2 separate regions of the Homo sapiens genome follow, and region 1 is linked to region 2. The links come from fine-mapping of genetic effects on gene expression. Tissue or cell type: whole blood. Region 2 holds a variant in brackets; the other region holds the start of a gene. All regions are shown on one strand. Distances are between the middles of the regions. Region 1 holds the start of OSBPL10 (oxysterol binding protein like 10). Region 2 overlaps OSBPL10 (oxysterol binding protein like 10).

What was found. PIP is the estimated chance that this variant, and not a neighbour inherited with it, causes the effect.
Region 1: it holds the start of OSBPL10, and the variant in region 2 is fine-mapped to the expression of OSBPL10 in whole blood (TOPMed, PIP above 0.99).

The regions. Positions count from the first base shown.
Region 1 is chr3:31,971,791-31,984,832 of GRCh38, reverse strand. OSBPL10 (oxysterol binding protein like 10) reads left to right here and starts at 3,571. Exons shown (of 12, transcript NM_017784.5): 1 at 3,571-3,934. The coding sequence starts at 3,654. It overlaps ZNF860 (zinc finger protein 860), which reads right to left and starts at 3,083. Exons shown (of 2, transcript NM_001137674.3): 1 at 2,931-3,083. RefSeq lists a silencer at 3,812-3,881 and an enhancer at 5,436-5,485.
Region 2 is chr3:31,931,083-31,947,490 of GRCh38, reverse strand. All of the region lies in intron 1 of OSBPL10 (oxysterol binding protein like 10), which reads left to right. Among named protein-coding and RNA genes, the nearest start is that of OSBPL10, 42 kb to the left of the region's middle. RefSeq lists enhancers at 1-562, 563-1,165. The variant A/G (reference allele first, on the strand shown) is at 8,702.

The DNA of each region.
Region 1 (13,042 bases), 39 kb before region 2:
GCCACAGCTAACTTTGGGAGGAATTTAGTTCATAGTCTAACCCTAAAGCAAGGATTGTAATATCCCTTTCCAAAACTATTCCCTCCTTGTTTGAACACCAAACTACCTTTGTAAAACTAATGAAAGGCCACAGGCTTAAGAGAGGTCTGAACTTTGCTAAGATAAAGGCATAGTTAAATGATAATCTGCCATTTTTCCAGAGGTCACAAGATTTCTAACCTCCCCATCACTCCTATAGATAACACCACTATTGTAAAACTTAAGATTTGTGTTTGAGGTGTTTTTCATACCCTGCATTCTGACGGACCAGTTGCCACCACCCAGTCTGGTAAACTGGCTCATCAGGTCCTGTGGCCCTTACTCAGGAACTGACTCAGTGCAAGAAGACAAACTTCGACTCTCTATAATTTCATCCCTCACCCAATCTATCAGCTTCCCCATCCTTAGCCCTCTGCCCACCAAACTATCCTTAAAAAAAAAAAAACCTTAGGTGGGCCCGGTACGGTGGCTCACGCCTGTAATCCCAGCACTTTGGGAGGCCGAGGTGGGCGGATCACGAGGTCACGAGATCGAGACCATCCTGGTGAACACAGTGAAATCCCATCTCTACTAAAAATACAAAAAAATTAGCTGGGCATGGTGGCAGGTGCCTGTAGTCCCAGCTACTGGGGAAGCTGTGAGGCAGGAGAATGACGTGAACCCGGGAGGCAGGGCTTGCAGTGAGCTGAGGTCGTGCCACTACACTCCAGCCTGGGTGACAGAGCGAGACTCCAGTCTCAAAACAAAAACAAAAACAAAAACAAAAAAAACCCCTTAGGCTCTGAATTTTCAGGGAGATTGATTTGAGTAATAATACACTCCTGTGCTCCAGCTTGGCTGGCCCTACAATTGTTAAACTCTTCCTCTATTGCAAAAACCTGCATTGGCTTTTCCGGGTAACAAGCAAGATGAAACTGTTGGGCATTACAGTATGTATTTCAAATACTTTTTGCCAACTTATTATGTATTTTCCAAATTGTTTTTCAAACATAAAGACTTTTTCCTCTCCAAACATAATTCTGCAGGTACCTTTTCCCTATTTGCTATACTACGGTAGGTCAAGGAAAGCTTTCTGGAAGAAGTGACTTGTAATCCATAACTCCATGGGTGAGAAACACAAACCGGGTGAAGAGAGCAGGGAACAGTGTCACCAGCAGGAGGAACAGCATGTGCTTCATCACTCTTTCATGATATAGCCTCTACTTTCAGCACATCTGCTCCACTCACCTCTTGGACATTTTTGATCCCATACGGCTGGCTTGCTCCTGCCCCATCCTGGCCTTGACTATTCCTTTTAGCTTAGTTCCTTCCCCACTTGAACTGGTCTATCTCAAGGGTCTAATTTTTTAGTCCAAGGTGAGAATTTGTTGTGCTAGCTCATTCAGTCTTAGGTTGGCTGCATAAGGTGGAGTAATGGTGGCATAGGTTAGGTAATATGAAATAAAATGACACTTCTCCTCTTTTAGCAGGAGCTTAAGGTGGCAGTCTCCAATAAAAGGCATGTTGTTTTGGTACATAATGCTGACATTTATAGTCCAGTATGCACCTACCTTCCCACCTTCAGTCTGTATGTCAATGCAGGACTCAATGAACACTCATATATGATCAGTAAGTTAGCTTAGGCAAAGCTATGCTGTGGTAAAAAATAATGCTAAAATCTCAATGGCTTCAAACAAACATTTTGTGCATGTTACATGGCCAACACTAACTGGCTTAGGATCTGCTGTATTCCACACCTTCTCACTCCAGGACACAAGCTTAAGGAGAGTCCTTATCCGGGACATGCTGCTCTCCTGGGATAAGGAAAAGAGAAAGATGGTGGAACCATATGACTGCTCTTAAAGCTTATGTTTGGAAGGGGCATTCATTACTTCTGTTCACATTCCATTGCTCAAAGCAATTCCATGGCCAAGCCTAAGGTCCATGTGGAGGAAGGATACTCTTTCCATAGGAAGCGGCAGTAAATATTTTGAACAAATGAACATTCTTGCATAGTTTATTACAGCCGGTATCATTTGTCCCATTTTGCAGTGAGAAAACTAAGGCTAAAAGAGGTAATTTGATCAAGGTCATAGGTTAGAATTCAGCTCTGAATGGCTTCAAATTTGGTCCAGGCAAGCTCTTTTCAGATTTTTTTTTTTTTAACACTATGTAGGCACCTGGAATTGTAATTTACTCAGGGGCACAACCACTTCTCTTCAACTCCAGAAGCTTCTCCGTGCATCTCTAGAGCTAAACCACCCATGAAATCTTCCTGGAAGGATGTGAAGCTAGAAAGGGGTTGGGCTCGGGGAACTGTCCCTTTGAGAGCTGACTTTTCCATTTAGTAATTTTTTTTAACTCTTGAAGTATTTATCTGCTTGATGGGTTTGTAGATCCTTTGGACGGAGATCACCTATCATCTATCACCTTTTGTTTTGTCTGTGTGTGTGTGAGAGAGAGAGTCTGAGTTCCTCAAAGCTTTTTTCTAGGTAATTTTTGATACTTCAGATTACAATGGATATCTATATTCACAAAAAATATTAGTGGGATAGAAAGAGTATCTTTAGGTAGGAAGAGGGGCGCAGAAGTTACAGCCAACACAGAGAATCCTTCAATGTTTGTAAATATCTGTTAATTTCCCTTGCCTCTGGAGCAGTTTTCCCGGTTTCAGAGCCTCTGCTCCTAGGTGCACGTGCAGTGTGGTAGCAATGGATAGGTTTTGACTTGCCAGGTTTATGCGTGCCATTCAGGGCAGGGGATTAGGGTTAGGCCAGTGAGTGACCTAGGACACTCAATTTAAGGAAGCACTCGCACAAACCTGAGAGTTCGCGCGCCTCACCCCAGCCCAGCCGTGTGTCTGTTAAGCATTTATCATAATCCTGCTGCATGAAAATGCCCGGCGAGCTTACCTGTGAGGATCACCTGCCACTCCCCTCCTCCGCCAGACAACGCGGAGGGCCTCCCTGAGCTGTGACTTTGCTCCGCCGGTGATAATTTCCAGGTTACTGTGTAGGAGCGTCTGGCGCAGCATCGTGTGCGGAAGACCGAGAGAGGGAGTGTGCGTGTGAGCCTGTCAGGCCGGGCGGGTCCATATCCGGGTGGACCGGGTGGGTGGGGCTGCCCCTCCCTCCAGGTCCCGAGGTGGATAAGGGGTGGGGAGTGACGTGCAGAGATTCCCTTTCGCCCCTTCGGATCCAAGAGAGGGTGGCAGAAGGAATGCGTGGGTGACTTGGCGTGGATTTAGGGCGTGCCCACCCTGCAGATCGGCCTCCTAGAGTGTCCCGAGGGCCTGAGAGGCCGCAGGGACACGAAGGAAGAGAAGGAGGAACCCGAAGAGGGCTCGCCTAGCCGGCCACCCGCTCCGAACTTGCCCGGGAAACTAGTGCGGAGGGAGGGGCCGGGCCCTGGCCGCGGCGGGAGGAGGGGCGGCCGCAGCTGCATCCAGCCCCGTTGGCTTCCTTCCCAGCTCTCCTTCGCCTCCTCCTCCTCTTCCTCCTGTATGAGTCAGGCATTTCCCGGGGATTTGGAGCAGGCACGCGCGGCCCGGGCGTCCGGAGCTGTAGCAGCAGCAGCAGCCGCCGTGCCGGGGCCGCCACCGCGGCGGGCACCCGCGTCCCGGGCGCCCACGGACCATGGAGAGGGCAGTCCAGGGCACAGACGGCGGCGGGGGTAGCAACAGCAGCAGCCGCAGCAGCAGCCGTGCTACCTCGGCGGGCTCCTCGCCCTCCTGCTCTCTGGCGGGCCGGGGGGTCTCCAGCCGGTCGGCGGCGGCCGGGCTCGGCGGCGGGGGAAGCCGCAGCAGCCCGGGCTCTGTGGCCGCTAGCCCGTCCGGGGGAGGCGGCCGCAGGAGGGAGCCGGCGCTCGAGGGCGTGCTCAGCAAATACACCAACCTCCTCCAGGGCTGGCAGAACAGGTAACGCGCCAGCCGCCCGCGCCACCGCGCGCCGCTGTGTGTGTGTGTGTGTGTGTGCGTGCGTGTGTGTATGTGTGTCTGTGTATGTGTGTGCGCGCGCGATTGTGCCTTCAGCGAACCCAGTGATGCCTCCCAACGGTGCCCTTCCTGCGTCCCTGCTCCCCTCCAGGTGGGGTTCTCAGGATGGGGCGCGCCGTGGCTCCACCCCGGGACCGCACCGCAGTGGCGGGGAGGGAGGCGAGAGCCCTGGTTTTCTTCTATGCTGGCACCTGCAGAGACTGGAGTGGTGGCAGGAGGATCGTGCTGGTCCCCGTGCTCTGCTTGTCCGCGGTTTCCCGCACGCCTGAAGAATGACTGGGAAAGGGAGGCAGAAGGGGCGTGCTTTGTGCCGGGGTGAAAAAGCGTTAGCACGTCCGCTCCGATTACAGTAATTCTCTAAGTAACAGTTCATTTTAAAGTTTGGTGTTTCAGAACACCACCACCATCAACAAAAAACCTGCCACTTGTCATCCTGGGCGACTGTGCATACTCCTGCCCCAGTTTGTGCCTTGCAGCCTCCGATGTTTGTAATGGAAGTTTTGTTTAAAAACAGAAAGAGGCCGGGCGCGGTGGCTCACCTCTGTAATCCCAGTACTTTGGGAGGCCGAGGCGGGCAGATCACGAAGTCAGGAGTTCGAGACCAGCCTCGCCAACATGGTGAAAACCCGTCTCTACTAAAAACAAAAAAAATTAGCCGGGCGTGGCGGCGCGCCTGTAATTCCAGCTACTCCGGAGGCTGAGGCAGGAGAATCGCTTGAACCCCGGAGGCAGAGGTTGCAGTGAGCCGAGATCGCGCCATTGCAATCTAGCCGGGGCGACAGTGCGAGACTCCGACTCAAAAAAAATAAATAAATAAAATAAAATAAAATAAAATAATAAAAAGAAAGAAAAAATACCCTCCCCCTTTTAATATTAGTAGCAATTTACATTATTATCATTATTTCCTCTTCAGGTCCCATTTGAAGTTTCCTGCTCACTTCCCCCTTGCAGTTGAGAAGCCTAGTTATGGACACGTGGAAGGATGGGGCTGTCGAGGAAAGGGGCTCAGGAGGCACTTGGAATGGTGGTAGTGTGTGTGATCTGCCATCGTGAGGAAGACAAGAACAGATGTGGCACTACTGTTTACTTTTTGTTTTTGTTTTTTTTTTCAATTTGTTTTCCAAAAACAAGCCAGAGGGAAATACAAGTGTCAGTGCGAGGAGAACAATGCTTTTTGGAGAGGTGGTTGGTGGGATATTTTGTCCTGCCTATTTAACAGTCTCCAGATCTTAATAGACTTGGGGCTCTTAAGGATGTTTGTGAGATTTGAATTATACCCTGGAAAGTTGCTTATCTCTGCTGCATGGACTATATTACTTGGTTATCTCTTCCTGTAGATTGTTTGGAAATGTTCAGATTTGCTTCCATCTGAAACATATCAGCCAGTTATCTGCACGAAACTCAACTTGGAGGAAGAGGTCTTTTGAAGTATGGAAACTGAGTTGTTTCTATATTGATATTCTACATATAGGACTTTCTGAGTCACCTGGGCTTCCTGGGAGATGTGTTACTATGTTAGTGGAAGTTGCACTTAACTTTTGAATCCTTTTATTTCTCAAAATAGTCCTAGTGTCTGCTGTTGCCTCTCCCTTCCCCTTTCAATTCGTGAAAGCTGAAAAAGAATAGGTAGAATGCGTAGGTAGAGGGAGATATGAGATGACTAAATCTGATTTCAGTTCTTGGTAATTATGTCTCGTTAATGGCAACTCAAGGTGCCTTGTCAGTAACAGCATTTTGTTGGTGTGTTGAGCAATCACTTAATGCTTTTTCTTCAAGTAGATTATGAGGCCAGCAAAGCTTTTACCCTGGATTACAGTTATTTTATTATTTACTTGCTGGGGAACAATATTTTACCTTGCAGTCTGTATTAAAGGATTTGTTATTTGGAGTGGATTTAGGAGGCATTGGAGTAACATTCTTTTGCATTATTTTAAACCCATTGTGGTGTTTAGATTGGAGGCAAGGTTGAGAAGAAGCACATTTAATGCCAATAATAATACCTACGTGATAGCAGGCTACCTAGGTGAAATGTGGTATTAAGTACACTCCTGAGCATGCTTAAGTGATGTCTCATCTTTATTGAGTTTGTTTACTGCAATTTATAGCTGTCTGCCTATGTTTGTTCTTACCACAGTAGACTCACCGTTTTCCAAGTCTACCACTGACTCCATAAGCATCGTCTGTAATTGTTAACATCTCAGTGTCAGGGTTTCTATTTCCCACATTTTGTTCTTTGAACGATGGCTGAGGGTCCATTAGTGGTTTGGAGAAGATTACGATGACTCTGTGCTTGCAAAATTCTCCCTTCTCTAGGGGTCTTATGAAGGGACAGATGGATTAGTGAAAAGGAAGAGAGAAGAGGATAAAAATAGAAACTTTGAAAATGTATTCATTTGTTCAATTATCTATTCACAGACTGTTTTATTGAGCACCTACTATGTGGCAGGAACTGTTCTAGGAGCTGGAGCTACCACCCTTCCCTGGTCCAGGGAAATGCCTTAGTACAAATAGTTAGCCAACTGATTCCTGCTGCCTTTCTTTCTGGGCCTCATAGCATCTTCCTTTGGCAGTTCTTTTCAAAGTGCCCACAGTTAATGACAAATCTATAGCAACCAAGTTCTTGGTTCATCCTCTCAGGCTGCTGTGCAATTGTAGTGCTCTTCACCAGCTCCCAGGACTTAATACCAATCACCCACTAACAGTTTGTACCCTGGTGTCCTCTTGCATGTTCTCAAGTTGCTGTAAAACTTATATTTTAACACTTGGCATCATATTCTGCCTTTATTTGTAGCCTCATCCTCATGCCCTTAGGAAGGCAGTTTGGGCCAGAACACAAAATAAACGACATAAAGAGAGGTCACAGAGAAGAACACTGTATGATGGGAACGTGCTCAACTCAGGAGAGTAAGTTCAGGACATTTGGCTCACACTCACTGGATGAGAATGTGAAATACTTAGAGTATGGGGAAAACATGCATTAAGGGCTTTCTGTCATTCATTATTATAGATATTTAAAGAAAATATTTCAGGCATAATAACATTGTATAGATTTACAGGATGGCACTGAAGAGTAAATACATTGATACAAATGAACAACAATAAAAAATCCAGAAAGTGGCAAGTGCTATGAAGGTTAAAAAAAGGTGATGAGATAAAGCAAGTATTTGCAGGAATAATTTTAAGTGTGAGTCTAGTGTTTTTACTGCTATTCACATTGTCACTTAGAGTACTCTCTTATTACCCATCTTATCACTCATACAGAGTGAACCATGGGGAGAGTAAACCTCGAGAACTTGAGGAGGCAGATGACCTAGCACCTAGTTGGCCAGGATTAGAATTTCAGACTGGGTTCTGGTGGCCCAGAAGGATTTTAGGAAGGGAAGTGACACTTATTAGGTCACTTTGGCTGCTGTGTAGAGATGAGATTTTCAAGGGGCCAAAGCATGAAGCAGGGAGACCAGTTAGGAGCCCATCTGAGTGGTCCAGGAAAGAGATGCTGGCGGCCTGGGCTGGGGGTTGGCAGAGAACTGGAGAGAAGGGATAGATCTGGTGTGGAGAGGATGGAAATCGCTGATGAATTTGATGTGGAGGTGAGAGAGGGGCAAGAATAACTCTTGATTTGTGGGCCTGAGAGGCTGGGAGGTTGAGACGTCCTTTGTGGAGATGAGGATCACAGGAGGGGAATGTGTTTGTGGGGAGGGTGAGGCTTGGCCAAGAGTTCTGTTTGGACTGTGTTCAGTTTGAGGTGCTTACCCCTAGTAAGAAACTGGCTGTATGAACTTTCATTTGCCCTAAGTCAAACTTTACTCTCAAACTAAAATGGAGCTATTTTGGAGTTGCTCATAATATCAAGTATTTGAGGAAATAATTTCTAATTGGATCTAGAAATTGTTATTTAAATATCTAAGGGTTGCCATTGCCATTCACTTTTTCTTATTTGGAGAAAAGAAGACACTGCGAACGTGGAACCAACCTTCAATTCTTTTTTTGGTGATTGGCAGGGTTGTAAGAACTCAATAAAATGCTGAATGACAACAAATCTTGACTAGGATTAAGGAAGACAAGGCTGGGTGCATTGGCTCACATCTGTAATCCCAGCACTTTGGGAGGCCGAGGTGGGAGGATTGCTTGAGCCCAGGAGTTCCAGACCAGCGTGGGAACCATGGTGAAACCCTGTCTCCACAAAATAAAAATATAAAAATTAGCCAGTGGTGGTGGCTTAGGCCTGTAGTCACTGCTGCTCAGGGGTCTGAGTTGGGAGGATTGCTTGAGCACAAGAGGTCAAGGCTGCAGTGAGCTATGATCACACCACTGGACTCCAGCCTGAGCAACAGAGCAAGACTCTGTCTCTAAAGTAGACATTTATTTGGGGAGGAAGAGTAGTGTGAACTTTGGATTCAAATCTTGACACCAACACTTAGCACACATGTGACCGTGGGCTAGCTCTTTAATTGCACTGGGCTTCTGTTTTTCTCTTCTGCTAAATGTGGGAAATGATGTTACTCTTTTCATTAGTTCAATGTGAAGATTAAATGAGATTATTGGTGTATAAGGGACTGAGAATAGTACATAGCAAGATACCAAGAAGTGGTAGCTATTATTAGATCTTCAATTTGTCTGTTTTTAAGTAGGCACTTTCTGGTCCATAAAATTCTTGGTTTTTATTCTGAGTGCTGTGGTTACCCTGGGACCACATTAACATAATTATCATAGAGTTCTTTGGGGAGAAGATGATTACTTCATTTTGAAGGGATCCTTTTAAAACTTGGCACCAAACATTTACAGCTCCCCTTCCCAGCCTCTAAATCCTATCTTCCTTTCCTATTTTATTTCTCTCCATATACCTTGCTATTATCTGACATGCTTTATATTTTACTTTTTTTGGTCTCTCCACACTAGAGTATAAGCTCCCTGAGGACAGATAATTTTGTTTGTCTTTGTTGCTGCTGTTATCTCCAGTGTTGAGAACAGGGTCTGGTATACAGTAAGGGTAGAGTAAGTATTGTCAAATGGATAAAAAAATGAATAAATGTCAGAGAGGGAAACCAGGGCTTAGTTCTATTTGAGCCAGTGTTAGCTATTATTAGTATCAGAAGTCTTGGTTCTGTACCTGCTTGTAACCTTGTCCTTGTGTTGCTGTGTTTATCATCTGTCCTGCTCTCTGCAAACAGTCTTTGGTTCTGGATCAGGGAGTATGACTCTTCCTGTGACGTGCCCACCCTGATTTAGGGCCCACCACAACTCACCCATTGGGGGCCATTAGTGACCAAATATCCAGGGCTTGCTTTTGACTCTATCTGGATTAACAACATACGTTGAGTGTTTAGTGTTTAGCCCCCAGCATTTTGGTGCCACTTATCCCAAATTAAAGCATCACTGGGGTATATATGAATTTTTAAAGCCACCTTGAAGGAAAATAAGTGTTTTTTTGAGTATCCCAATAATTTTAGAGGGAATTGGTGATACCAGGGTTGAAAATCACTGCTCTGGGTTTTGTATTCTTGTCCGCGTGTACATAGGAAATATCTGCATATCTTCCTGTGTAGTCTGCCAGAGTGTTTTGAGGCCGTGTGCTAAAATCCTTTAGGGACACTAACTAGTTTCATTGATGGTAATAATAAAAGGGATGGTTGCCTAGGTTACAAAACACTGTATAATATTGTTTATTCACTTATGGTTCAAAATACGTATTGAGCACCTGCTTCGTATTAACTACTCCCTGCAGAATCTGCCCTCCCCCTCCTTTGAAAGTGTGTGTATATTTGAGGAGATTCACACCAAAATGGTTTTCTTTGGTTGGTGGGATTATGGGTGATTTCCATTATCTTCTCTTGTCTGTTTTCCCAAGGTGAATGTGTGTCTGTTTTGCAGTTTGAAAAAGTTGTTGAGGCAAAGAAAAGCTGCTCATGCCTTTTCACGTCATCTGTCTAACTGAGTTTTGCGAGTAAATTTCAAGTCTAATCTACATTCAGAAAAGTACACAAATCATATACATACACAGTTCAATGAATTTTCTTAAATGGAACACACCCAGATTAAGAAACAGCTGCCAAAACATTCCCTGTCCCCCACAGCCCCTTTCCTCATAGTATCTCCCCGCATACGGTAACTGCTATTCTGACCTCAACACCACTGAGTTGTTTGGTCTCCTTTTGAACTGTGTATTGTGTAATATGTGATCTGTGTGTCTGGCTTCTTTCTCTTAACGTTATGTTTGGGAGGCTTACGCATGTTTCTGTGTATAGTTGTGGTCTGTTTATTTTCATTGCTATTTGGTATTCCGTGGTATGAATATACTGAACACATTTGTCTATTGTAGGTTGGTATTTGAGTTCTTTTCAGTTTTTGACCCTATTCATAGGGTCACAATGCTGTGAACATTCTAGTACCTGTGTTTGGAGAACATAGGTATGCATTTCTGTGGATATACACCTAGGAGTGTTTGCTCATGTCCAGCTTATTAGATACTAGCAGAGAGTTTTCCACAGTGGTTGTATGCATTAATACTTCCACCAAAAGTGTGTAGAGAGAGTTCTGTGTGTACCACATTCTCATCCACACTTGATATTGTCTCTTGTTTTCATGTCATCCAATTTTAATTTGCCTTTCCCTGATGACTACTGAGGCTGAACATGTTTTCACGTATTAATCGGCCATTGGGATGTCATGTTTTGCAAGCTGCTCTTTAAGTCCTCTGCCCATTTATCTGTTGGGTGTCTGCCTTTTTCTTCTTGACTTTTACGAGATGTTTATATATTCTGGGTATGCGCCCTTTGCTGGATGCCTGTATACAGGTGCCTGGGCACTGCATATATAGAGACACGGTGTATTATGCAGGCATTATGTCCTGTGGATATACCACAGTTTGTTTATCCATTACCTGTAGGACAACATTTGGGCTGTTTCCAGTTTTTGACTATTACAGATAAAGCTGCTATTTGTGTGTAAGTCTTTGTGTGGTCACATGCTTTTATTTCTTTTGGGTAAATACCTAGCATTAGAATTGCTCGTGTATCCATCCTATGTAGAAAGTGCTAACCTGTTTTCCAAAGTGGCTGAACCATTTCACACTGCCACCAGCAGTGCATAAGTGAATAGATGGCTCCCCATCCTGGCCATCTTCATGTTGCTACCTGGAGAGCTTTTGGAAAACAGGACTGCCACTTCCTCATGTGCATGGCATTGCTTCTGAGAGGGGCAGTCTAGGGAGAAGCTGTGTAGTCCTTCTTACCTTTCCAGCTTTGTCTCCTTTTGGCCAAATGACCTTGGGCAAGTTATTTAACTCTTTGGGCCTTGGTCTCTCCATCTGTAAAATGATATGAACCTCGCAGTGTTGTGAGGCCACCACAGGCACCAGTCCTGTGCTTGGTGCACAGTAGGTCCTCAGCAGAAGTTTGTGAGTGAGAGTCTTGTATTTTAGATAGACTAGTGACTAGCTTTCTGGAACCTAGGGGTTGCATTGGTGGTCACTTAAGCCCCAGCCTTGGCAAATCTGCAGGTGTCTTAGCCCTGCCTCTCATTACATGAGGACCCAGTTGACTTAAGCCATTTGATTTGCCCAGTGGCTGTCTGCGTTTGGTGTGCTTCCTCAGAGGCTGCTTGTGGACAGTTGTCTGAGGACTCTGGGAAGAAAGAAGCCACATGGATGGGCCTTTGTGTCCTGAAAGAAGGGTTGAAATGATTGTGCCGGAAACGTGGGAGGCTTTTTGCAGTTCTGCCTGGCTCCCACTGATGCGATTTGGGGCCAGGCCAAGACAGAATTAAAAAGAAAACCATCCAGAATTTGAATTTTGATAACCTAGACTGGACTGAATATGGTCACAGCCCAGAAAATGCTTTATTTGTGCCTCATGCAATGATATCAATAATAATGATAAAATTAGGAAACATTATATATGGTCTTTTGTTGCAAGTCTGTTCCTTGAAGGTCAGAGAAGGCATTTGCACCATGAATAATCTTTTCTTTTTGTGTTGTAGTTTTTAGGGGACTATTTATGTTTTTGTGTGGTTTAGTCCCTTTCTATAAATATATTGATGAAAATACAAAGAGTTGAAAGGCAACCAATATCAGTTTTTAGTCACTCTTTTCCAGGATGTTTTAAGTATTTATCTGCACGGCCAGCCTTGTGGCCTGTGCAGGCTGCCATGAGTGGTTGGGTGGGATTGGACGTTTTTTGGAAAGTGGTGGGGTTCAGGTTCTCCTTATGTGTGGGTAGAACTGGGGGCTCTGTTCTGGCCTTGTGTTCAGGGCAATCGAGTAGATTAGGTGACTGATGCAAATGATCCTCACTCAGCCGTCTCTGCAGTGCTCACTCCGTCAGAGCTGTGTGGGCTGCTAACAATGCAATGAAAACCACCGCTGCAGCTGATCTGGGCTTTTTGGTTGTTAAGTAGAGTCTGGGCAGAGTCGGGAAACTTTCTTTTTTCTTTTTGAGACAGAGTCTCGCTGTGTCACCCAGGCTGGAGTGCAGTGGCGTGATCTCCACTCACTGCAACTTCCACCTCCTGGGTTCAAGCGATTCTTCTGCCACAGCTTCCTGAGTAGCTGGAATTACAGGCGTCCGCCACCACACCCAGCTAATTTTTGTATTTTTAGTAGAGACGGGGTTTCATCATGTTGGCCAGGCTGGTCTTGATCTCCTGACCTCAGGTGATCCGCCCGCCTTGGCCTCCCGAAGTGCTGGGATTACAGGCGTGAGCCACTGTGCCCGGCCCAGAGTTGGGAAACTTTCTAAGCCCTGAGTGAGGTGGCAGCACCATCCCCCAAACATACTCCTCTTTGCTTGAAATTATGCCTGGTGGAATTTTTATACCCCAAATATTTTTGAGCGCTTTTTATGTATATGTCAAATGCCATGTGAGAAGCAGGAGACAGGAGGAAGAAGCACAGGCCCTACCTTAAGGAGCTGACAGTCCATAACAGAGGGGAGCAGACTTTTCTGTAAAGGGCCAGATAGTAAGTAGGTTAGACTTTGTGGGCTATACAGTCTTCATGGCAACTACCGAGTGCTCCTTTGTAAATAAGTGGAT
Region 2 (16,408 bases):
TCTGCCATTGGTAATTTGGACACTCGCTATAGGCAGGCAGAGGACAAAGCATGCTTCCGCCTTTGTGAGGAGGATAGCATTCCAATTTTTCAGCCTTAGTGATGCTGTGGGAACTGCTGTTCAGCTGAGTTGGGTGGAGGAATTGGCACCTCCAGCTTTGGTGATGTGCTGTGTGCTTAGGGACAGCCTGGGCCGAGGGTTGACCTTGTTCGTGCCTAGATCCAGAGCTGCTACACTTCTGCAGATGGGATCCTGGTCTCTATGTCTCCCCTACTCACCCTTACCTTCCAGTAACTGCTCCCCATCCTTTATTTTTTGTGTTGGCCCAGTGTTTCTGATGTCCACTGAGTTGTCAGAGCCTGAAATTTAGTGAATCATTCTGATTACTGCTGTGTCTCGTTCTCTAGTATCTAACCAGCCACTGAGGCATAGCTGCCTTTCTGGTCTGCTCCCTCCTGCCTTTGTCTCTTCTGATAACTGCTCGTCTCATTTGTCAGTATCTAACAGCCACTGAGCCGTAGCTGCCTCTCTGGTCTGCTCCTCCTGCCCTTGTCTTTGTTTCGATGCTCCTTGCATCTGGTCTGGACTCCCACGATCATCTTCTTAAGGCCTCCCTGAGCCCAAGCTCCTCTTCTTCTAGGCACCTCAACACCATCTCCATGGTAACTTTTCTAAAGCATGCAACACTAAAAACTCTTGGGTGACTTCCTGTGACCTCCAAAGGAAGTCTCAGCTCTGCTAGAATGGGACCAAAGCCCAGCTCCACCTTGAACTTGTGTCATAGCCTTGCTTCTTGTTCCCTCTCCTTAGCCGGGCAGATGCCTTGTCCTTTGATAAAGGCTTCCTGTCACCTCCTGAGGGCTCTTGTGCTTTTCGCAGGTGGATGCCATTACCTTTACCGCTGTGCCTCCCGCAATTGCTCTGTTCACACGCTGTCCGCCATCTGCCTGCAAGGGCCCAGGCAGGGTCTTACTCATCATTATGTCATTGCTTCAATAGAAGCCTAATATTTTGTACATAGTAGTCAGGAAGGAAACGACTTAAAAAATTCTTAATTTTTCTTAATACAAGGGTTTTTTTTTTTTTTGATAAAAAACAACTTAATAAAATTCTTAATTTTTCTTAAATTCTTAATTGATTTCTAATTTTTTTGTTATTATTGAAAAAGTAAAAAACTTGAGTTCCCCCTTTTCATTAAAAAACTTAGTAGTGGCTGGGTGCAGTGGCTCACGCCTATAATTTTAGCACTTGGGGAGGCTGAGGGGGGTGGATCACCTGAGATCAGGGGTTCGAGACCAGCTGGCCAACGTGGTGAAACCCTGTCTCTACTAAAAATACAAAAATTAGCCGGGCATGGTGGCACGTGCCTGTAATCCCAGCTACTCAGGAGGCTGAGGCAGGAGAATCACTTGAACCTGGGAGGCGGAGGTTGCAGTAAGCCGAGATCATGCCATTGCACTCCAGCCTGGGCAACAAGAGTGAAACCCATCTCAGAAAAAAAAAAGCATAAACCAAAACTTAGTAGTGTCTGTTGATTCAGGCAATCCCTAATGGCAAGAGGTTCTCTGAATTGAGTAATGCCTTAAGTAGTTTGGATTTTTTTAGTCATAATAGGATCTGCAGATGTTTGGCCAGTAACCCTATTTGTATGCATGATACGTTATTCGTACCAGACCAGGGGTCACAGGCTCAAATATTCTCCAGGTCTCAGGCTGTGTCACAGAAACAAGGGTGTCAGAAAAGCAGTATAAACCCCTCTGGTCAAGGGCTGCTGACCTCTGCTTTGGCATCCTGAGCGTCTGGAGAAGGTGGGAGCATGGAGACCTGAGAGTGCATCACATCTGACAGGGCAGCTGCTTCTCAGCTATGGCCTATGGTTGCCGTGTAGTGAATGGACCCCATGTTGAGATCCTTGGATATTGCAAGAGAAACTAGAGATGTAGATTTGTGTGAGAAGCTGTCTTAATTTTTAAAGATTGTCAACTGATTCAAAACAATTTTTAAAGCCAAAAATAAAAACAATGAACAAACCAAAGCCTGATTCTGGTCAAAGCAAGTGGGCTTGAGGGCTGGATCGTATGTCACTGACTGACTTTTGTTTTGAGGCTTCCGGTCCAGATAGTGTCCCTAGAGCATATTTGTGGTGACTTTGGGAGCCCCATGTCACTGGTGTTGACTTTGGGGACTGTAACTTTGGACCAGAGTCCTAGTGGCAGGAATTTGACGCCTTGTTTGCTGATGAGGGAGGGAATTTTAGGTAATTTTCTCCTCCCAAAATGACCCTGGCACCCCTTTTGTTAGCATGGCTTGTTCCTTCCTGTTTTTTTTTTTTTTTTTTTTTGAGACGGAGTCTTGCTCTGTCGCCAGGCTCGAGTGTAGTGGTGCAATCTTGGTTCACTGCAACCTCTGCCTCCCAGGTTCAAGTGATTCTCCTGCCGTGGCCTCCCGAGTAGCTGGGACTACACATGTGTGCCACCACGCCCAGCTAATTTTTGTATTTTTAGTAGAGACGGGGTTTCACTATGTTGGCCAGGATGGTCTCAATCTCTTGACCTCAGGATCTGCCCGCCTCAGCCTCCCAAAATGTTGGGATTACAGGCATAAGCCACTGTGCCTGGCCTTTTTTTTTTTTTTTTTTTTTTTTTTTTTTTTTTTTTAAAGAGAGGGGGTCTTGCTCTGTTGCCCAGTTTGGAATGTAGTGGTGCAATCATAGCTCACTGCAACCTTAACTCCTGTACCCACTCTTTTCATGTGAAGCAACCAGATTGGCTGATGGATGTGCTGGGAAGAAGGTGTCTCCAAGGAGATGAGTCAGTGCCACAGCACTGTATTATAGGCATTATGTATTATAGGCATTAGAGTTGTCCTTAGTCTATTCAGGCTTGTATAAAAAGGACAAAGGGAAAATTTAGGGATGGGGACAGCTATCAGGAAGGTGGTGGTTTTACATAAATCTTTCTCTCCACATGTCCATATGTAAATATATCCATGCTTTAGCAGGCCTGTTAGTTTAAAATATGGATTGCCATTTGAAAACTTGACATTTTCCTAGATGTCTTGAACCTTAGTTCATCTAGCCTGGCCACATCATTTAATAGAAAAGATAATTGCTAACACATGGTTTACCAGTTTGGAAGCTGTTCTTTTATATTTTATGATTATATAATTAATTTATTTTTACATTTAAAAAAGCTGCTTATTTTTGCTGGTAGAAATATAGATTGGTATGACTTTTATGGAAGACAAATAGGTAATCTTTATCAACAGCCTTAGCAATGGTTATATTGTTTGATGCAGTGATTCTACTTGTTGTAAGATATGCTAAAATAGTAATCAAAGAAGTGCAGAAGAAATAATTCATGAAAATGTTCATTGCTGTGTTATTTATGACCACAGAAAATATGCAACAGCCTAAATTGGGGAATAGTTAATAAAGTTATGCTTTATCTATCTGATGAAATATTATTCATATATTAAGTGTTGTTTCTAAAGAACTTTTTTTTTTTTTTTTTTTTTTTTTTTTGAGACGGAGTCTTCCTCTGTTGCCCAGGATGGAGTGCTGTGGTGCAGTCTCAGCTCACTCGAACCTCCGCTTCCTGGGTTCAAGTGATTCTGCTGCTTCAGCCTCCTGAGTAGCTGGGACTACAGGTGCGTGCCACCATGCCTGGCTAGTTTTTTTGTATTTTTAGTAGAGACGGGGTTTCACCCTATTGGCCAGGCTGGTCTCGAACTCCTGACCTCGTGATCCACCTGTCTTGGCCTCCCAAAGTGCTGGGATTACAGGCATGAGCCACTGTGCCCGGCCTCTGAAGAACATTTAATGACAGTGGAGTTAATGCTCTTGATACAATGATAAGTGGAAATAACCCAGTTTTAGTTAAAATATCCATGTATGTCTGTCTCTGTGTATGTGTATAACTAGACAGTAAGATTTTAAGGGAATATTCTGAAATATTAACAGCGACTTTCTCTGGGTGGTGTAATTATTTTCCAGATTTCCTACAATGAACATGTGTTGCTTTTTAATCAGGAAAAAAGTCCAAGTTTTTTTTAAAACTATTGAATGTACTTGATTAAAAAAAATACTGTGTATTATATGACCTAGCAATTCTACTCCTAGGTATATACCCAAAATAATTGAAAGCAGTGACTCAAATAGATACTTGTATGGCAAGGTTCATTGTAGCATTATTCACAAGATTCAAAAATGGAAACAACCCAAGTGTGCATCAGTAGATGAATGGACAAACAAAATGTGGTTTATATGCACAATGGAATATTATTTAGTCATGAAAAGGAATGTAGCTCTGATACATGTGGCAACATGGAGGAACCTTGAAAACATTATGCTAAGAAGTCAAATAAGCCAGTTACAAAAGGACAAATATTGTATGCTTCCCATTGTATGAAATATCAATACTAGCCAGATTCATAGAGGAAGAAAGTAGACTAGAAGATACCAAGGGCTGAGGAAAGATTGGAATGGGGAGTTATTGATTGATAGTTACAGAATTTCTCTCTGGGGTGATGAAAAAGGTTTGGAAATAGATAGTAGTGATGGTTGCATAACAATTGTGAATACAACTAATGTCACTGAATTGTACACCTAAACATGACTAAATGGCAAATTTTGTTATGTGTATGTTATGATTTAAAAAATTTGACATAATTTTTTTTGTCAAAACTGTGTTAGCTAATTGTGTGTTTGCTATTTTACATATGGTGTTTACTTTCAATGACAGTGGCTATCACTTTTTGGTTCATTTATCTCAATTTTTGCTTTTCACTTTTACCCCTACAGACATGCCTGTGCTTTAAATGGGTTTGTTGTTTTGAAGGTTTCAGATGCCAGGCTCAGATGCTGACAATGGAGCCAGGCAGGTAATGAGGCATCTGGGAGGATTTAAAAAAAATGTATAAGAGGAAATGTGTCACTTTTTTTTTTTTTTTTTTTTTGAGATGGAGTCTCACCCTGTCGCCCAGGCTGGAGTGCAATGATGCGATCTTGGCTCACTGCAACTTCCAACTCCTGGGTTCAAAGGATTCTCCTCTCTCAGCCTCTTGTAGCTGGGATTACAGGTGCCCGCCACCCAGCTAATTTTTGTATTTTTAGTAGAGACAGGGTTTCACCATGTTGACCAGGCTGGTCTCAAACTCCTGATCCGCCCGCCTTGGCCTCCCAAAGTGCCGGGATTACAGACGTGAGCCACTGCGCTCAGCCCGCTTTTTATATTGAGCCATACATTGCATTCTTGTGGCGCCATCTCGGCTCACTGCAAGCTCCGCCTCCCAGGTTCACGCCATTGTTCTACCTCAGCCTCCCGAGTAGTTGGGACTACAGGTGCCTGCCGTCACGCCCAGCTAATTTTTTTGTATTTTTAGTAGAGACGGGGTTTCACCGTGTTAGCCAGGATGGTCTCAATCTCCTGACCTCGTGATCCACCCGCCTCGGCTTCCCAAAGTGCTGGGATTACAGGCGTGAGCCACCGTGCCCTGCCATACATTGCATTCTCGACTGGGAGAAGAAGGAAGAAAGAGAAGCCCTGCTGGTAACCAGCAGCCAGCCGATAATAGTTCTGGAATGGTGAAAAGTATTCTGGCAAATCAGATAGCACTTGAAGAAATACAGCTAGCACTTTTTTGCTTTGAAGATTGATTTGGCAGCTAGAAGTGCTAGAGGAAGATCTTTACTTATATTCTCTGCTTCCTGATATTTAAGGAATTTATTTCACTTGCAATTTAACACTAGTCCATTTTCTTTCCCTTTCAAAGGAAAGATGGGCCCCTCTGAGATGTGAAAGATGGCAGGTGGCTGAGGCTGCTTCTCTTAAAGCTACCTCTTAGCAATCCATCTAAAAATGATTATGGAATACAAGAAATTGGGGTCAGCAGGGATCTTGGCAGTAGGCAGGCAGCCAGATCCCTCTCAGGGGAGTTTGAGGTGTCTAGACTTGATGCTTTTGAGCTCTTGGTACGTTTCCAAATCATTGTTTGGCTCCTAGCTGCTTCTGTTGGAATTTACACAGCTCAGAGAGATTTGTTGGGCTAACTCTTGCCTCTGCTTAAATCAACTGAAAAAGTGACCACTTTCGTATCCATCAAAGAGTCTTCCCTTTGCTCAGGATGCCCTCCCTGAGATTCATTTATTTACCCAATAAGACTTTCATTTTCCTTTTATCTTGGCTTTTAGAGTAAGAGTTAGCAGAGTCTGTTTGTCTTGCTTTTCTTTTTTGTTTGCACCGGATCTTGATATAATACAGTCTCCTGTGTATATATGGTTACTGAAGTATTAAATATAAAATACTGACCTTTTATTCTTTCAAAGTTATTTCCTTAAATATTGATATTGCAACTGTTCATCCTTCTGTGTTTAGCTTGAGGAGAAAGCAATTTTTGAATGTTTCATTCACCTGTCGGACAAACGTTGAGTACATTTACCATTCTCAACACCTGGCACACCCTCAGCAAATAACTTGGAGACCCTGTGCTCAGGGAATTCACATTCTGGGGAGGGAAATGGTTAAGCACAAGCCTTTTTTAAGATGAGAGAGTTGGCCAGGTGTGGTGGCTCATGCCTGTAATCCCAGCACTTTGGGAAGCCAAGGTGGGTGGATCACGAGGTCAGGAGTTTGAGACCAACCTGGCCAATATGGTGAAACCCCGTCTCTACTAAAAATACAAATCTAGTTTGGGGATTGGGAAGACTTCCTGGCAGTAGTAACATCTACGCTGAGTCTCAAAAGACAGTAGGAGGTGGCCATGCCAAAGCTGTGGGGTTGTTCAAGCAGAGAGGCCAGGGGTGAAGGAGAACATCATCTATTTGGGAAAAGATAAGAACTTCAGTATGAGAGCAGGGTAGCCTGTGAAGGAAGGTGACGAAGAAGGAGTACAGAGAATCATACAGGTATGAAATCCCAAAGGCCTTTGCCATGAGATTGTGGCACTCTCAGAAAATACTTAAAAAAGGGAAATGAGGTGGCAATTTTATACATTCATATTATCAACACATCAAACCAGATATAGGACATCTCCACCAGCCCAGAAAATTCCCCAGTGCCCATTTCCAGTCAGTCACCCACCCCACCTCTCTACAGCTGCTTTCTGACTTTTATCACCAGTTATGTCTTTCTCAGATTTCATGAAAATGATGTTACGTAGTAGGTGTTCTGCCATGTCTGGCTCTCTTAAGTCAACATAATACTTTGGAGCTCAGCCACATTGTTGAGTGCATCAGTCGTAGCTCCTTTTCATTGCTGAGTAGTGTTCCATTGTATGGGTTCACCCAGTTTGCTTATACATTCTGTTGATGGACATTTGGGTTGTTTCTAGTTTTTGGCTTTGATGAATAAAGTTGTTGTGAACATTTCTTGTGTAAGTCTTTTTTGTGGACATATATTTCTATTTCTCTTGGTTAAATACTTAATCATGGGATTGCTAGGTCTGGCTGTCTATTAAAGAATATATGGAGTGGGCTGGGTATAGTGGCTTATGCCTATAGTCCCAGTGCTTTGGGAGGCCGAGGTAGGAGGATTGCTTGAGGCCAGGAGTTTGATACCAGCCTGAACAACATGGTGAGACCTCGTCCCTCTATTAGCCAGGTGTGGTAGCATGCACCTGTAGTCCCAGCTACAGGAGGCTGAGGCAGGAGGATCGCTTAAGCCCAGGATTTTGAGACTTAGGTTCAAGACTGGCAGTTTGAAAAACAGTGAAGTAAAAGGCAGACAGAGGGAAAAGATTGGCTAGCAAGATAGAAAGAAACCCAGGAGTGTGTGCATGAATTGAGGGCTCAGGGAAGATGTTCCAGAGAAGCCAGGTCAAGTGTGGTCTGAATGTGTTTGTGGAGTTTGGTCACTATGGCCATGCTGGTGTGCTGCTGACTGTAGCTAGGGGAGTTTCACTGGAGGGGTGGGGAAGGAAGCCAGATTCACTGGGAGAGAAGTTGGGAGAGATAAATCTAGAAGCTTGACTGTGAAGAAGAGGTCATAGTTGGAGCAGGCGTTAGGTCTGAGGGGAATTTTTTTGTTTTTTTTTTTTAAGATGAAAGAGTTGGCCAGGTGTGGTGACTCATGCCTGTAATCCCAGCACTTTGGGAAGCTAGGGCGGGTAGGTCACAAGGTCAGGAGTTTGAGACCAACCTGGCCAATATAGTGAAACCCTGTCTCTACTTGAAATACAAAAATTAGCTGGGTGTGGTGGCATGCGCCCGTAGTCCCAGCTACTCGGGAGGCTGAGGCAGGAGAATCGTTTGAACCTGGGAGGTGGAGGTTGCAGTGAGCCAAGATTGTGCCACTGCACTCCAGCCTGGGCGACAGAGTGAAACTCTGTCTCAAAAAAAAAAAAAAAAAAGGATGAGAGAGTCTTGGCACATTAAACTGAAAAGAGAGGGAAGTGTGAGAGCATAAGAGAGCATTAATGTAGTAGAGCAAATGCCTGGGAAGTCTAGTGTGGATAGAGTTCTGAGCTGGGATGCATGTTGATCTGAAGCAGGAGGAAGGACATTTATCCACTGAATGGGAAGGAAGACATTGATGGATACAGATGAAGGTGAGTTTGAGGGTGGGCAGGAAGTTGAAGGCGTTCTTGCTTTACTCTCTGTAAAGTAGGAGGTGAGGTTATCGTCTGAGAGTGGAGTTAGAGGAAGGGTTGATGGTGGACCCTGAGGCTTGGGCAAAGTCGAGGAGGTTTGAAAAAGCCTCTGGCC[A/G]GGCATGTTGGCTCACACCTGTAGTCTCAGCACTTTAGGAGGCTGAGACAGAGGATCACTTGAGCCTAGGAGTTCGAGACCAGCCTGGGCAGCATAGTGAAACCCCATTTCTACTTACCTGGGTGAGTTGGCGTGTGCCTGTAGTCCCAGCTACGTGGTAGGCTGAGGTGGGAGGATCACTTGAGTCCAGGAGGTCAAGGCTGCAGTGAGCCATGATCGCACCACTGCACTCCAGCCTGGGCGACAAAGTGGGCTCTATCTAAACAAACAAACAAACAAAAAACCCCACAAAAACTTCTGAGGGGAATGGAAAGAGAGCTCAACAGGTTTGCTGGACAGCTCTGAGGGTGTCCAGAATGGAGCCCCTGAATCTGTTATGCCATCTGCTGTTAATGGTTGTGTGGTTTTCTCCTTGGTGTTGAGTATCCTGAGGAGAGGAACAGAGAAGGTGATAGGTAGAAGGATCTGGGGTTGGGATTTGGTTGAGTGAGTGTTTAAGAGAGTGTGAGGGAGTTGAGATCATTGGTTAGTGGGCAGTTGATGTAGGATGGAGGAGAAAGGAGATGTAGACAGAAGAGGCCTGTCAGAGAAGAAGAAAATAGAGGTGCTAGCAAATTGGAGCATCAGAAGAGATGGAAGAGTTGGTGTGGTGGGAGAGGTGGCATGAGAGATCTCAGGGAAGGAGTTCGTAGGGTCAAAAGGAAATGCAGTGAGATGTTTGGCAGGTACTGTCAGAGTTGGAGCCATTCTGAGTAGTGATGGGAAAGCCACGCTAGGTCTTTGGGAGGAAGACAGTAACACCAAGAAGGAGGTTACAGAATGAGGTCAAGGAACTAATTGGGCAGTGTGCTTGGTGGATTCTAAGGTCATTTGGAATGACTGCTGGACTTGGTGACTCAGGGAGGACTGAACCAGGGGAAAAGGTCTTCAGCGAATGAGATAGAATGATTGAGAGACATGGAGGTAAATTTTACCCAAGAGTGGAGGAGTCTTATATTGGAAACAGCTTTGGGCAATAAGGAGAAGCTACAATGTGCTTCCATCAAGAGTTCCAGGTTTCAACCAAGATAAGAAGAGAGGTTGGGGGAAGGGTGGTCCCAAGAGGTTCAGTACAAAGGTGTAGGAGGGTGGGGATCCAAGGGAAGTTTTGGACTGTGGGTGTGATATTGTGGGAAAGGGTCGGGGGTCTGGGGGCAGGAAGGGGCTTGAACTTTGGACAGGACTGAAAGGCATGATGGGGGTGAGTGGCTGTATTGTTCTTCTAGCTCCCCTGCTGGCTAGGAGGAGCCAGTCTTCTCTTTGGAAGCAATTTGAGAAGTGCTCTGCTGGACCTAAATTGATGCTGTCCAAATTTCTGCCTTGAGGCAAGTTGGCTATGCCTTCTCGGATGAGTAATTTCAGCCCCTAAAGAGTATAGCAAATCCATATAACCAAGAGTTGGCAAGAAAAGGCTCTTTATGACATTTGAGTGTTTCATGTTCCTCTGACTTTCTTTCTTTTTTTTTTTTTTTGAGCCTGAGTGTCTCTTGCCCAGGCTGGGTGCAGTGGCGCAATCTCGGATCACTGCAACCTCTGCCTCCCAGGTTCAAGTGATTCTTCTGCCTCAGCCTCCTGAGTAGCTGGGACTACAGGCACATGCCACCATGCCCAGCTAATTTTTGTACTTTTTAGTAGAGACAGGGTTTCACCATGTTGCCCAGGATGGTCTTGATCTCTTGACCTTGTGATCTGCCTGCCTCAACCTCCCAAAGTGTTGGGATTACAGGCATAAGCCACTGCACCCAGCCATTCCTCTGACTTTCTAGAGGCCTGTTTACTGGAAGAGTGAATAATCTCAACTGCTTCTTTTTTTTTCCTGGTATCTAGAAAGCAGAAAGATAAGAAGACTCCTTGGGGTTTCAGTTCCATTCAGTGCCTTGGTTACACGGTGTGATAAGTCATGTCTGGTTCTTGAAAGTCAGCAGTGAATAAGCCTTTCCCAGTGTAGAGCATAGGGTTCCTTTGGGGAATTTAAACACATTTTTCTTTAATGGCTGAAATGAAGTGTGGCTCTTTTCATGGAAGTTTTATGTATTTGACCTATTTAATTTTTTTTTCTTCAGGAAATAAAAAATGCCACTTTCTTACTTCCCTTCCAAAACAGACAACCACTGACTTTTCTTGGCAAGGAGATACCTGTGTGTGTCATGGAAATGGATGGTGTTTGGAAATGTGAAAAATGTAATTTACTTTTTCTTTTCACCATTGAAGTGGATTAAAAGAAGTGAATATTTTAATGGAACTGGATATGATAAATGTCTTTCTTGTGAAAGCTTTAGAATCAGAATGAAAAATTATGTTTTGATTTTTCCCTATAAATATGCACATTTATTCTTGGAAGTAATACTAGAGTCTGTTTGTTACAGCATTTAGCTAACATGAGGTTTCAAAGGACAGTCATTTTGTACAGATTGAATACAAAATATGCAGAAGGGACTGCCTCAGTAAATAAATGCTAAGCCCTAGGTTGTTTTGGTAGTATTTTAAGAAAATAAGAGTTGCTGGTGTACCTTAAAGAATGTAAGAGAGAATAAAAAGAAAACAAAAATGAAAATAGGAGAAAGAAAAATTATTAAAGCATGAGAGGCTGAAGCAAAGAATGAGTGAAACCTTAGAGAAGCTCAGGAATGGACATTTAAAGACCAGTGGGGAATGTTAGAACAGAGGGGAGTTACATAAGGAAATGACAGTTCAGGAGTTGAGAAGGGATGGTGAAGAGGAGAAGGGGGTATGGCCCAACCTGTAAAAGCATAAAGTGGAAAGATAAAGGATTTTTCTCACTAGAATGGTGACTTTACATAAAAAGTAAAAACATATCAGATCCTGCTTGTAGAATTTTGTTATCACTTCAGCAATTTTATTTCCAGAACCCCTTGCTTAAACGCAACCTATTTCCTTTCCCTTTCTACATATGAAAACCAATTATTTTGGCCGGGTGCGGTGGCTCATGCCTGTAATCCCAGGACTTTGCGAGGCTGAGGTGGGTGGATCACAAGGTCAGGAGTTCCAGACCAGCCTGACCAACATGGTGAAACCCCGTCTCTACTAAAAATACAAAAATTAGCCGGGCGTGGTGGGGGTCACCTGTAATCCCAGCTACTTGGGAGGCTGAGGCAGGAGAATCGCTTGAACCCAGGAGACAGAGGTTGCAGTGAGCCAAGATCATACCACTGCACTCCAGCCTGGGCGAAAAGAGTGAGACTCTGTCTCAAGAAAAAAAAGAAAAAAAAAAAAAATCTATTTCATAGGAGTAGATTTTTTTTTCTTCTTTTAGTTCCCAAAGCAGCATTTCCCAGGATGAATTGCACCAAATGCTGTTTCAACAGGCTGTTCAAAGGAAATAAAGAATTTTATGTTCAAATAACTTTGAGAAATACTGTATAAAAAAAAAGTTTAACATGTTTATTTACTGCACAGTTCTCAGATCCCTTAACATCAAATATGTATTTTGAATTTCTAAGATAAATGGTCTCTCTTATCTAATGGAATTCTGGTTTTGCTCTGGGTGGCAAAAATTATAGTTAAAAATTCTCATCTCCCCAGACTCCCCTGTTGCCAAAGGTGACACAGTAGCAGCCAGTGAAATATAAGTAGAAGTGGTTGCAGGGCAGAGGCTTCCAGGAGAGCTTCGGTTTCTTGATAAACAGGATCTGTGAGGCTGGCACACAACTTTCCCATTTCCCTTCCCACCTTCCTGTATGAAGGGGATGTAGCAATCTTGTCCCAGGAAGGCCAAGCGCTAAGAGTTGCAAATCAGAAAGATTGAAGGGGTTCTTGATGGCTTCTTGCAACTACTCTACCAGCCTTGGAGTTTCTATCTTTGGACTGGTTGCTTTAGTAGAAAAATAGAGCCCCGATTGTTTAAACTACTATGGGTAAGTTTCTATGACATGCAGCTGAATGCAATTGTAACTCATACCAGGGTGATATATAGTAAGCAGTAATTGTGCTTATGTTAACCGTGGATATCCAATTTTTTTTCCTTTAAACTATTTAGAAGAGTCTTTGGGAAATGCTACGTTTATGAATAGAAATGTAGTAATATAGTCAGCCTTTTTTTTTCTATAAAAATGAATTTTCTCTTGGGAGGCCGAGGCGGGTGGATCACCTGAGGTCAGGAGTTTGAGACCAGCTTGGGAAACATGGTGAAACCCCATCTTTACTAAAATACAAAAAATTAGCTGGGTGTGGTGGCAGGCACCTGTAATCCCAGCTTCAGGAGGCTGAGGCAGGAGAATCCCTTGAACCTGGGAGGCGGAGGTTGCAGTGAGCCGAGATTGTGCCATTGCACTCCAGCCTGGGCGCCAGAGCGAGACTTTGTCTCCAAAAAAAAAAAAAAAGAATGAATTTTCTGATGGTCTTTGACTATGAAATTTGGGTTTAAAATTTTGGGCTTTTCCTTTGCCTTTTCCCCACACAGATGAAGTTTTTGCTTCCTTTTTTTTTGTTGTTGTTGTTTTTTAAATGGGCCAGGCTGATCTTGAATTCCTAGGCTCAAGCCATCCTCCCCCGCTCAGCCTCCTGAGTAGCTGTTACCACAGACAGGCATCACCATGCCTGGCTTCCTTTTTTGTAAAAACAACAAACAGACCAAAAAAGCCTTTGTAATTAGTTTATGCCTCTTACCAAAGCACTTTATATATGCCAGGTTTTTTTTTTTGTTTTTTTTTTTTTAAACAGAGGTGGTTTTCATTAGCCTATTCATGCCTTCTTTACAGTACAATTGTTCTGAAAATTTGTAGGGGAATTGACTCAGATGTACATTTATTTTCGTCATACTATCAGAGATGTTTAATTTCCTTTGAATGATTTTATTCTTAACTGTAGCACTTAACACTTTTTTCTGTCTTCTTTCCTCTCAAAATTAATGTCTGTAAACTAATGTTTAAGTGGCCTAGAGAGTCTCTTAATGTAAAAGCTTGTTGTAAAGTTGGAAATCTTTTGTAATTTGAATACCCCTTGATTGCTGTCCTTCAGTGCATTGGATTGTCCTAGGGTGTTCTAATAGTATTTCTCAATTAGCTGATAAAAGAATTTTAGAGGCTGGGTGCCCTGGCTCAATCCTGTAATCCCGGCACTTTGGGAGGCTGAGGTGGGAAGATTGCTTGAGCTCAGGAGTTGAAGACCAACCTAGACAACATAGTGAGAGCCCACCGTCTCTGCCAAAAAATGTAAAAACTCAGGGGAATGTGGTGGTGTGTACCTGTAGTCACTACTGCTCGGGAGGGTGAGGTAGAAGGATTGCTTGAGCCCAGGAGATCGAGGCTGCAGTGAGCTATGATAGCACCACTGCATTCCAGCCTGGGCAACAGCAAGAGACCCTGTCTCCTAAAAAAAAAAAAAATTTATTGTTTCCCCCTTAAAGGACATTTAAAGTATACTTCAAATCTCTAGAATATAAAATCAGAATGTTAAAGTTGAAGTGGCCCTTAGCAAATGAGTCTAACCTCCTCATTCTGCAGCTGAAGGGATCGAGAACTTACCGAAGGCCTCATTACTGAGCCAAAAGGATGGCAGGACTGGTGCTCTATTCATGAGTCTGCTCACTCTGGTGATGGCCTGACAATAACAGTGTGGGAAGTTACACAACTCATTTCAGTGATCAGTTTCTCCATGCGTAAAACTGGAGTAACTTCTCATTTGCTCAACCTGCAGTAAAATCTTTAAACTCTTCTGAGTTGCTTGGAATTGAATCCTTATTCTAGTATACTGTATTTGTTGGAAAGGAGAAATATTTGATTTTAGAAAACTTTATTTTTAAATAAATTTGAGTTTATTGCAGTATATAAAATTGAACCTTTTCAAGTGTACAGTTCAATGAGTTTTGACAAATGTATGTCTTATGAAACTGCCACCATAAATAAGAATATTCTACCATCTTAAAAGGTTAGAATTTGTTTTGCTTTGATTAATGAGAGAATACTTTCATTTTCTGTAATAAGAATATGGATAAAATGTTACAACTATTAAAATATTGACATACTTCATTGTTTTCATGAAAGCTGTTAAATTTTTGATTCTCTTGCTGACACCAAGAAGAAGGAGGGGGAGGAGAAGGAGCAGACATCATTAAAATGATGTTAAATAGCCTCTTTGTGACATGGGGAGTGTGTAATGGACTTTAATATTATTCAGGTAGAAAAAATGATAGGTAAGGATATAGTAGACTTATTTTTATTATACGCAATGTAAAACTTTACAGATTTTCCTGTGGGTTTGTGGAGACAAGGTGTTCGTTAAATTTAAATCATAGGGAAACCATTACCAATGAAATAAATTGTATATCTTCTTACATTGTTATTTATTTATTTATTATATTGTTAGAACAAGCAGCATCAAGGTACTTAAGCCATTTGTATCCCATTTGAAAGGCAGGAAGCGAAATCACTTAGGGCATTGAATTTGAGGCAGTGTTGTCTTGGAGGTAAGGAAAGTTTTAAGCTAAGCAAAGAAACTGGGAGATGCGGGTGGAGGTGAGGAGACCGTGTTCGGAGTTGGAAACTCTAGTGAAATGGATTATTTTAGCATAAACTTATCATTGGCAAATAACAGTGTTTGGTTTTCTTAAACTTTTTTTTCTTCAAGTTTCTTGAATGAGAGACCATGTTTTTCATTTTCATTTTTATTTTTCGGTATAATATAATCAGATATATAAATTCTGTAAATTTTTTTTTCTTCATTTAAAAAGATTATTTATTTGTTTATTTTTGAGACAGAGTCTCGCTGTATTGCCCAGGCTGGAGTGCAGTGGCATGATCTTGGCTCACTGCAACCTCTGCCTCCTGGGTTCAAGTGATCCTCTCACTTCAGCCTCCGGATTAGCTGGGACCATAGGCACACACCACCTTGTCTGGCTGTGTTGCCTAGGCTGGTCTCGAACTCTGGGACTCAAGAGATCCACCCACCTCAGGCTCCCAAAGTGATAGGATTATGGGCATGAGCCACCATGCCCAGCCTAAATTCTGTAAATTACATCACTATTTATTATTTATTCATTTATTCAAATAACATTTCTTGAGTACTTACTATGTGCAAGACACCATTCTAAGAGTTTTGAGAATAAAAAGATGGATTTGATAATGAGTGTTCTGTAAGAAGCTTCTAGTGTAATTGGAATTAAAAACATAAGCACAGACAACAGAACTGTAAAGGTGGCTTGGATTTGAATGCCAAGACAAGGAGCGTGGCATTCTGTAAGCAGTCAGCTTCCACTGATGTATAGAGGAAGGACTTCATCAGGTCTAGGCCAAGGTCATCTCCTTAAAGGGAGTTGAATCTGGTGGTGGAGTATAGGTGCATTCTTAATGGGTAGAGGGGAGTATGGAGACCAGCTAGGGGACCCTTGATAATTGTCTAAGGACTTGGAGTGTGTCCACAGAATTGGAAAGGAAATAGGTTAAGCAAGAGATGTTTTAGAGAGAATCATCAGAATTTAATAAGTGGTTGGGGGCTGGGGGTGGAGAGTGGGGAGTGTTTCAAATGCTACTAAGATTTTTTAAAAATTTAATTTGAATTCATTTTTTAGTAGGTATTACGTTCACATGGTTTTCAATCCAAAAGAGAATGCCATGAATTGTTTCCCCCTTCCTTCTGTCTCTCGGTCTCCCTCTCCAAAGATAATCACCAGTGTTATTGGTTTCTTCTATATGCTCCCAGAGATATTGAATG